2 linked regions of the Homo sapiens genome follow. The protein of the gene in region 2 purifies or fractionates together with the protein of the main gene of each other region. This does not show direct contact. Each region holds a gene or a part of one and is shown on either strand. Other genes may lie near its edges.

The links. The genes of interacting proteins can lie anywhere in the genome.
Region 1: the proteins of UPP2 (region 2) and CCZ1B purify together in Homo sapiens (co-immunoprecipitation; one large-scale study listed by IntAct). This does not show direct contact.

The regions. Positions count from the first base shown.
Region 1 is NC_000007.14:6,805,776-6,809,275, forward strand, and holds part of CCZ1B (vacuolar fusion protein CCZ1 homolog B), read right to left. Parts: intron 263-3,500; coding exon 229-262; intron 1-228.
Region 2 is NC_000002.12:158,111,676-158,115,701, forward strand, and holds part of UPP2 (uridine phosphorylase 2), read left to right. Parts: intron 1-3,425; coding exon 3,426-3,584; intron 3,585-4,026. UniProt on the Homo sapiens protein: Catalyzes the reversible phosphorylytic cleavage of uridine to uracil and ribose-1-phosphate which can then be utilized as carbon and energy sources or in the rescue of pyrimidine bases for nucleotide synthesis.

The DNA of each region.
Region 1 (3,500 bases), on a different chromosome or scaffold from region 2:
CTGGCAGTCCCAGCGACTTAGGAGGCCAAGGTGGGAAGATCACTTGAACCCAGGAGGTCGAGGCTACAGTGAGCTATGATCATGCCACTGCACTCCAAGAGTGAAACCCCGTCTCCAACAAAAAAACCCCAAACAACCGAAACCCCCAAAACATATTTATCACTTAAGAATAGGATGCAGCAAAGTACAAAAAGCTTAGGCTGAAATCAGACAAAGGCGCGTACCCACCGTCGATCATAAAGCACACAGCCGCACTCATGGCCTGGGAAGACAGAACAAACCAGAGGTTATGAAATGGTGGAAAAAAGGAGACTTTCGTATAATAACAATCTGTTCAAAGTCAATGGGGAGAAGTCAACTGTAAGAAGCTGCTTTTTGGTCAACTAGAGCCATCTGGACACAGACTGCCCATTCCATGATGCGAGGGGAGTGCTGTTGACCTTGTCAGGTGTGACAGCGCCAGTGGGGAGGTTACCACGGATGTCCTCATCAGAGAGGCACAGGGAAGTGTTCGTGACTGACGTGATGACTTAAAATGCTCTTGCAAACCCGACAACACAACATGGAGAAGCAACGAAGACCAGAATCTTATTCACTTGTGTGATGGGGACTTAGGGGTTCACTGTTCTAATCTCTCTGTGTATAGTCCAGAGAGAATAGAGAATTGGCAGAAACTGTCCATTATTCTGTGACGATTTCCATTGACACACGTTTACAAAGACAGCAAATGGATATCATCCTGTCTCACTTTATTATAGCAAGTAATTACAGTTATGACATTAGACCTAGCAACCGACAACAACCAGGACCACAGATAACCAAAAATGTTTAAAAGTTATCAAAGCAATGTATGGTTAAGAGAGGCTGAGCAGAACACCAGGCCTGATGATGAAAGCCACAGATTTCGTTCTCTGACCCTCCTCCCCGGCAACCACTTTACACTGTCATTAGACAACAGCGTTATCCTAACTCTTCAACGTATCCTCTTTGGGCATCGTACTGACTTCCTGCTCATGTCATGACAGGTGTGACCCCTCGTCTGCCTTCCCCCTCCTCCTCTATGGTTTATAGCATTCTATTTCCTCCGCTGGCCGCCTTCCACCAGCCACAGCCTCCGCTCCTGAACTCACATTCCCACCTGCCCCAGTACCTCTTCCCACTTCCGAGAGCGAGATCCTGTCTCAAGAGAAGAAAGATCTCAAATCAGTGACCTGACCTTTCGTCTTAAGATCCTGGACAACAGGAGTCAACTAAACCTAAAGCAAGTGGGGCCGGGTGTGGTGGCTCATACCTGTAAGCCCAGCACTTTGGGAGGCCGAGGTGGGCGGATCACCTGAGGTCAGGAGTTTGAGACCAGCCTGGCTAACATGGCAAAACCCCATCTCTACTAAAAGTACAAAAAAATTAGCCGGGCGTGGTGGTGCGCCTATAATCCCAGCTACTCAGGAGGCTGCGGCAAGAGAATCATGTGAACCTGGGAGGCAGAGGTTGCAGTGAGCTGAGACTGTGCCACTGCACTCCAGCCTGGGTGACAGAGCAGGACTCCGTCTCAAAAAAAACAAAAACAAAAACAAAAAAACCCAAACAAACCTAAAGCAAATGGAAGGAAATAATAAAGCATGAGAGCAGAAACAAACTCAACAGAGAAAAATCACAGAGATAATAAATGAAACCAAAAGTTGTTCTCTGAAAAGACCCAACATTGAAAAACTTTTCCTTTTTCTTGTGAAGATTCCAGAAGTATGAAGAACCTTTAGCTAGACTATACAACAAGAAACAAAGAGAGAAGACTCAAATTACTAAAACCAGGAATGAAAGAGGAGACATCACTACTGACTTTACAGGAAAAACGAAGGAGTATCCGGCTTTACCTACAATACCATGAAAAACCACGTGCCGACAAATCAAATAAATTAATTGAAGCTGACAAATTCCTAGAAAGACACAAACTACCAAAGCTGACTCAAGAAGAAACAAAATCAAAATAAACCTGTAACAAGTACAGAGATTAACCCATTTATGCTGGAGGTTGTAAATCTTTTTTGTGAAAAATGAGACCTTGGCAATGACCTTCAGCAGGATATAAATAACTCTCACAAGCTTAGTGTTCCAATAATGGAACACTGGGCATAAATGGTTAACTTTAAAATTTGCCACAAAGAAAAGCCCAGGTGCAGAGAGCTTGACTGTGAATTCTATGAAACATGTAAAGAGGAATTAACACCAATTTTTCACTGTCTTCCAAAAAAATAGGAGGGAACATTTCCCAACACATTTTATCAAGCCAGCATTGCCCAAAGATATCACAAGAAAACAAAACTACAGGCCAATATCCCTTACACCCAAGCCCGCACAGCACCCGCTCCACCTCTGGAGGGCTGGAGACTAAGGCTGGCCATGTGGGGCCAGCTGTGTCTCTGTGGCCAACCCCCAATCAGATCTCTGGATCTCGAGGCTCAGGTGAGCTTCCCTGGATGTCAACACTCCACAGACACAGCCACACATCCTCGATGGGGAAACACTCACTGGGCTGTCCACATGACCCCAACGGGAGAGGACAGCCGGAAGCTCACACCAGAGTGGGACTCCATCTCAAAAACCAAAAAACCAAAAAAAAAAAAAACAAAAAACAAAACAAAAACCCAAAAAACCAAACCAACCCAAACCAACCTAAAGCAAATAGAAGGACTCCTGGTCCTTCCATTGGTGGCTCCTGGGCCCTGCCCCACACGCCTCTTCCCCGGGCTGATTTTAACCTGTATTCTTCCACTGTAATAAACCGCAGCTGTGAGTGCCGCCATTCTTCCTTCCCCCTGGTTTTGTTTCCCATGGTTTCTGTTATGTGAGGGACAGTATAATAAAATATTGAGGGAAGGGGGAAGCAAACCGCATTCACATGACTTTTATTGCAGTAGAGTGTCATCGTCCAATTATGATTACTATTACTTGTTTTGAGATGGGGTCTCACTCTTGTCCAGGCTGGAGTGCAGTGGCACGATCTTGGCTCACTGCAACCTCCGCCTCCCAGGTTCAAGAGATTCTCCTGACTCAGCCTCCTGAGTAACTTGGATTACATGTGCATGCCACCATGCCTGGCTAATTTTTCTATCTATAGTAGAGGCAGGGTTTCACCACACTGGCCAGGCTGGTCTCAAGTTCCTGGCCTCAAGTGATCTGCCTGCCTCGGCCTCCCAAAGTGCTGGGATTACAGGTGTGAGCCACTGCGCCCAGCCTTATTAATCGCTTACTGTACTGAATTTATAAACATTATCACAGGCATGTATGTACAGGAAAAAACACAGCAAGTGAAGGGTTTGGTACTGTCCCCGGTTTCAGGCACCTCCCGGGGGTTTTGGAACACATGGCCTTTGGCTCGGGGGTACTGCTGTAGAAAGCCTTTTCTGAGTCCTGTAGTACTTCTAGAGAACTCTTACCCTAAAGGTGGTCACGGGGACTCCCAAACTCGCAGTGGGTGTCAGAAGTGAGGATGGTCTTGGAGA
Region 2 (4,026 bases):
ATAGTTGAACATTTTTTAAATATTCCATTTTTATTTATCTGTTATATTTTGACTATATCTCTTTGTTTTGTTTCAGTTTTGTTTCTCTGCTTATTTGTTTTAGTGGTTGCTCTAAGGATTACAGTAAACATATTTAATGTTTAAAAATCTACTTTTAATCAATGTTGTACGACTTGAAGTGGGACATATAGACCTTACAGGAATATACAGGAATCAAATAAACAAAAGAAGTGCAAACTTATACTCTGAAAACAACAAGCATTATTGAAAGAAATTTTGAAAGCTCTAAGTAAATGGGAAGACATCCTATGCTTATGGATTGCAAGATTTAATATTGTTAAGATAACTATACTACCAAAAATATTCTACAGATTCAATGCAGTCCCCATTAAAATTCCAGTTGCCTATTTTGCAGAACTTGACAAGCTTCTAATAAAATCCACGTCAAAATGCCTGGAATGCAGGATAGCCAAAATAGTTTTTACAAAGGAGAAAAAAGTTGGAGGACTCGCACTTCCCAACTTCAAAACTTATTACAAAGTTATAATGATAAAGACAGTGTGGTACTAACATATGGATAGACATAAAGATCACTAGAACAGAACCAAGAGACCAGAAATAAACTCTCACCTTTATGTACAACTGATTTTCAACAAGCATGCTAAGACAATTTATTGTGAAAAGAATCATCTCTTCAAATGGTGCTGGGACAACTAGATATCCACATGCTAAAGAATAAAGTTAGATCCCTATCTCACACCATATTCAAAAATTAACTCAAAATGGATGAAAGACCTAAATGTAAGGCTTAATTCTATAAAATGTTAGAAGAAAACATAGACATAAATCTTTGTGACCTTGGATTAGGAAATGATTTCTTATGTAAGATACCAAAACACAAGCAATAAAATAAAAATAAATAAATTGAACTCTAAAAAAAAAAGGAAGTTATCTATTCAAAATCAACATCTAAATATGTCTTTTATAAAATCACTAACTGGTATCCTCTAATCTCTCACTAGAAATTTTAGTAATATGCAATGCATTTTGAATGTATTTATATTCCCTTGTTAACACAGAAAATGCATAAAATGCAATAGACCAGATTAATACAACATGGCATAGTTAAGCCTTTTAAGATGCTAGGGATATCTAAAGCTGAGTTTTTTTCTGGCAATCATTAGGCAAAATCCTTAACATATTTTTGTAATGCCTCTGACTCCTTCCCAGTGTGTTTCTAACTTCTTTGATAAAACCAGGACAATTGATCATTTTGTTTGAGACATAAACACAGTAAGTGTCACTTAAGGTCAATGTTGGTTGGTGGTCTTCAGCCATATTTTACTTCTCATTAAAGCAGCCAGACCGAAAATTGTGTCCAGAGGTGGTGTTTAGTGAGTCTGGTTTAGGAGTAAGGAAGGCTTTAAGAACCAAGCTGCTTCTGTCTGTGCATATGATCTTTATGTCTCCAGAAATATTCAGAAATTCCTGTCGATTATAGCAATATCTACAGTTCAAAGGAGAATTCAAACCACAAGCTATTCTAACATCTGTTTTGGTTTTATGGTCAATCTGAATAGTTGTAATTTACATTCACTGGCACCACACAATGAGGTTATTTTCAAACTACCGTACTGTGTTAAAAAATTTCCTTGGACTTAGATCGTGAGCCAAGTCTTAACTATCCATACCAACAAAGAAGAAAATTCTAAGAATTATCAATAACTAGTTTAAAACTCACCTGAAACCATGGTCTTAACCTCTTTGCTACCAGTCTTTATGGCAGACTTCTATTGCAGTTCATTACTAGCTTAAGGCTTCATCAGAGAAACTCATAAGAAGGCAGAGAAAAGACAATATTAAGGGTAGAAGAGAAGCAGAGGGCGTGGATACAGGGTTAATTACACCCCTAATTGAGAAAGAGAATAGCTCAGGAATTATTGCTAAATGGAAACAAGATGCATCATGTACTCAGACCACCCAATAGTTAGAGTAAATCATTTGTGAATGGGGCCGCCTATTCTATAACCTCAGTTAGGTATTTCGTTAGACAGATATTCTTTATCCCTGTGATGGACCTTGTCAGCCCTCCCAGTCCTCTGTCCAATGCTGCCTACATCAGCCAGATACCACCAACTGCCTTTTCCTCACTAGAGGACTCAAACCAGCTTCCTGTGTACTAAATTCTGCAATACAGGAAAAGTAACAAGCTCAGAAGCAGGAATAGAAAATTGCTACATGATATAAAAAATAATGGTTACCATTTGCACATCACTGAGAACGTGTCTGGACTTGTGCAATGTCCTTTGCCATATGCAATCTCACGTTCTTCTTTCAAAACTCTCTGAGAGGTACTGTGTTTTTCCTATTTTGGAGATGTTCTGAGGCACATCGATTATTTGTGTGACACTGAGCAAGTTTCTTACTCACTGATGGGGTTGGAGTTCAAAGCCAGGTTTACCTAACCTCAAAGGGCAGACCCTCCACTATGTTGTCTTCTCTCTCTCTGCATTTTCCTCACCACTTACTTCAGAATCCGGGAGGACTTGACTCTTGCCACCTTGCTGTGGCCTGTGCTTCCTCCTGGGTGTGAGAGTCTGCTACTGCTCACCCTCTTGTTGCTGACCCGTAGTGCTTCTCTGCTCCTCTCCCTGGCGTCCACCTCTCCCACTCCTGGTACCTGGGGCTAGGGTACCCCTAAACAGACTGTTGTATGAGTAACTGCCAGACAATTGTATTACCATCTTCTATTAGACACCGTTGACTGCAACACCTATCCTAATTTCAGAGAAGGTAAAATGTGAATAAAACAAAAACAAAAATAAATCACTGGAATTGATGAAATGCCACAGGGAGATCCCACATTTACAATAATAAGGCTTGTTCCATGAGAATTTCTTCTGAATAAGAAATTTAAAAGTCTTGACATGATTCCTTTAAAATTTTAAGTTCACATACTCCATTTCACAATACAAATTTATGATGGGGGATGGGGAATCAGAAAACATACCTAAAACTGGTGGTTCTCCTTTTGCTCTTACATCACTCACGTGCCGTGGCCTCAGAACTTACATCCTAAGCATATGTCATGGTAATGCTCAACAATAGGCTGTCTATGTCAATTTAAGATGCTGGTTGGTGTTCACTATAAACAAAAACACCAGGAAACACCTCCTTGAATAATATCAACATTTATTTTGATTTTGTGATTTTCTTTACAAATTTAGTGCAAAAAACTTTGCATCTGTTGCTTTATTTACAGGTTGATGATGCAAATTAGCTAATTCATGGAACATAAACCATGACATCTACACGTGTTCTTAAGTAAATTAACTAAAAAGTAAAATAAAAACATTAGAGTTGAAACTGACCCGTGGTTCTTATCCCAGTTACTATGGCAGGCCCTTGTTTATTTTTATTAACAGTTTGTCTGTGTCGGTGGGAGCCCCAACAGAATGAAAGCATTTGCACTGTTTATGCACAAGGAGCTCGGGTTTGAGGAAGCTGAAGAAGACATAAAAGACATCTGTGCTGGGACAGACAGATACTGTATGTACAAAACCGGGCCTGTGCTCGCCATCAGTGTAAGTATCCATGGTTGCATTTCAGCTAGTCATTGCAGGCTAGAGAAAAAAGTGGGAACTTTTACATGTAGGAGTTCTTTTTCCCTCCAGCTTCGCATTCTTACACAATCAAACAAGGTGTCCAGGTATGAGTTCATTATTGGAAAAAGCCCCCAGGGCAGAACACAGCATGCAGCATCATTTTTGTTTATTAGTTACCACTTAGGTATTCAAATTAGGGGGAAAATACTCAAAGCACCCCTCCTTTCTCTTTACTTTGTAACTGGTTAACACCCCTCACCCCCGCCACGGCAATTTTCCTTCTTCTATCCCTTACCCAGCTTTGGGAATGTTGAGCTTTTAGTACACAGAGGCTAATTTTCAGGACTGCTAAAGTGCTGCTGTTTAACACCATAATAAGCTCGCTGAAAAGCTGCTAATGCATTTCTACTGAGCTCTTGTA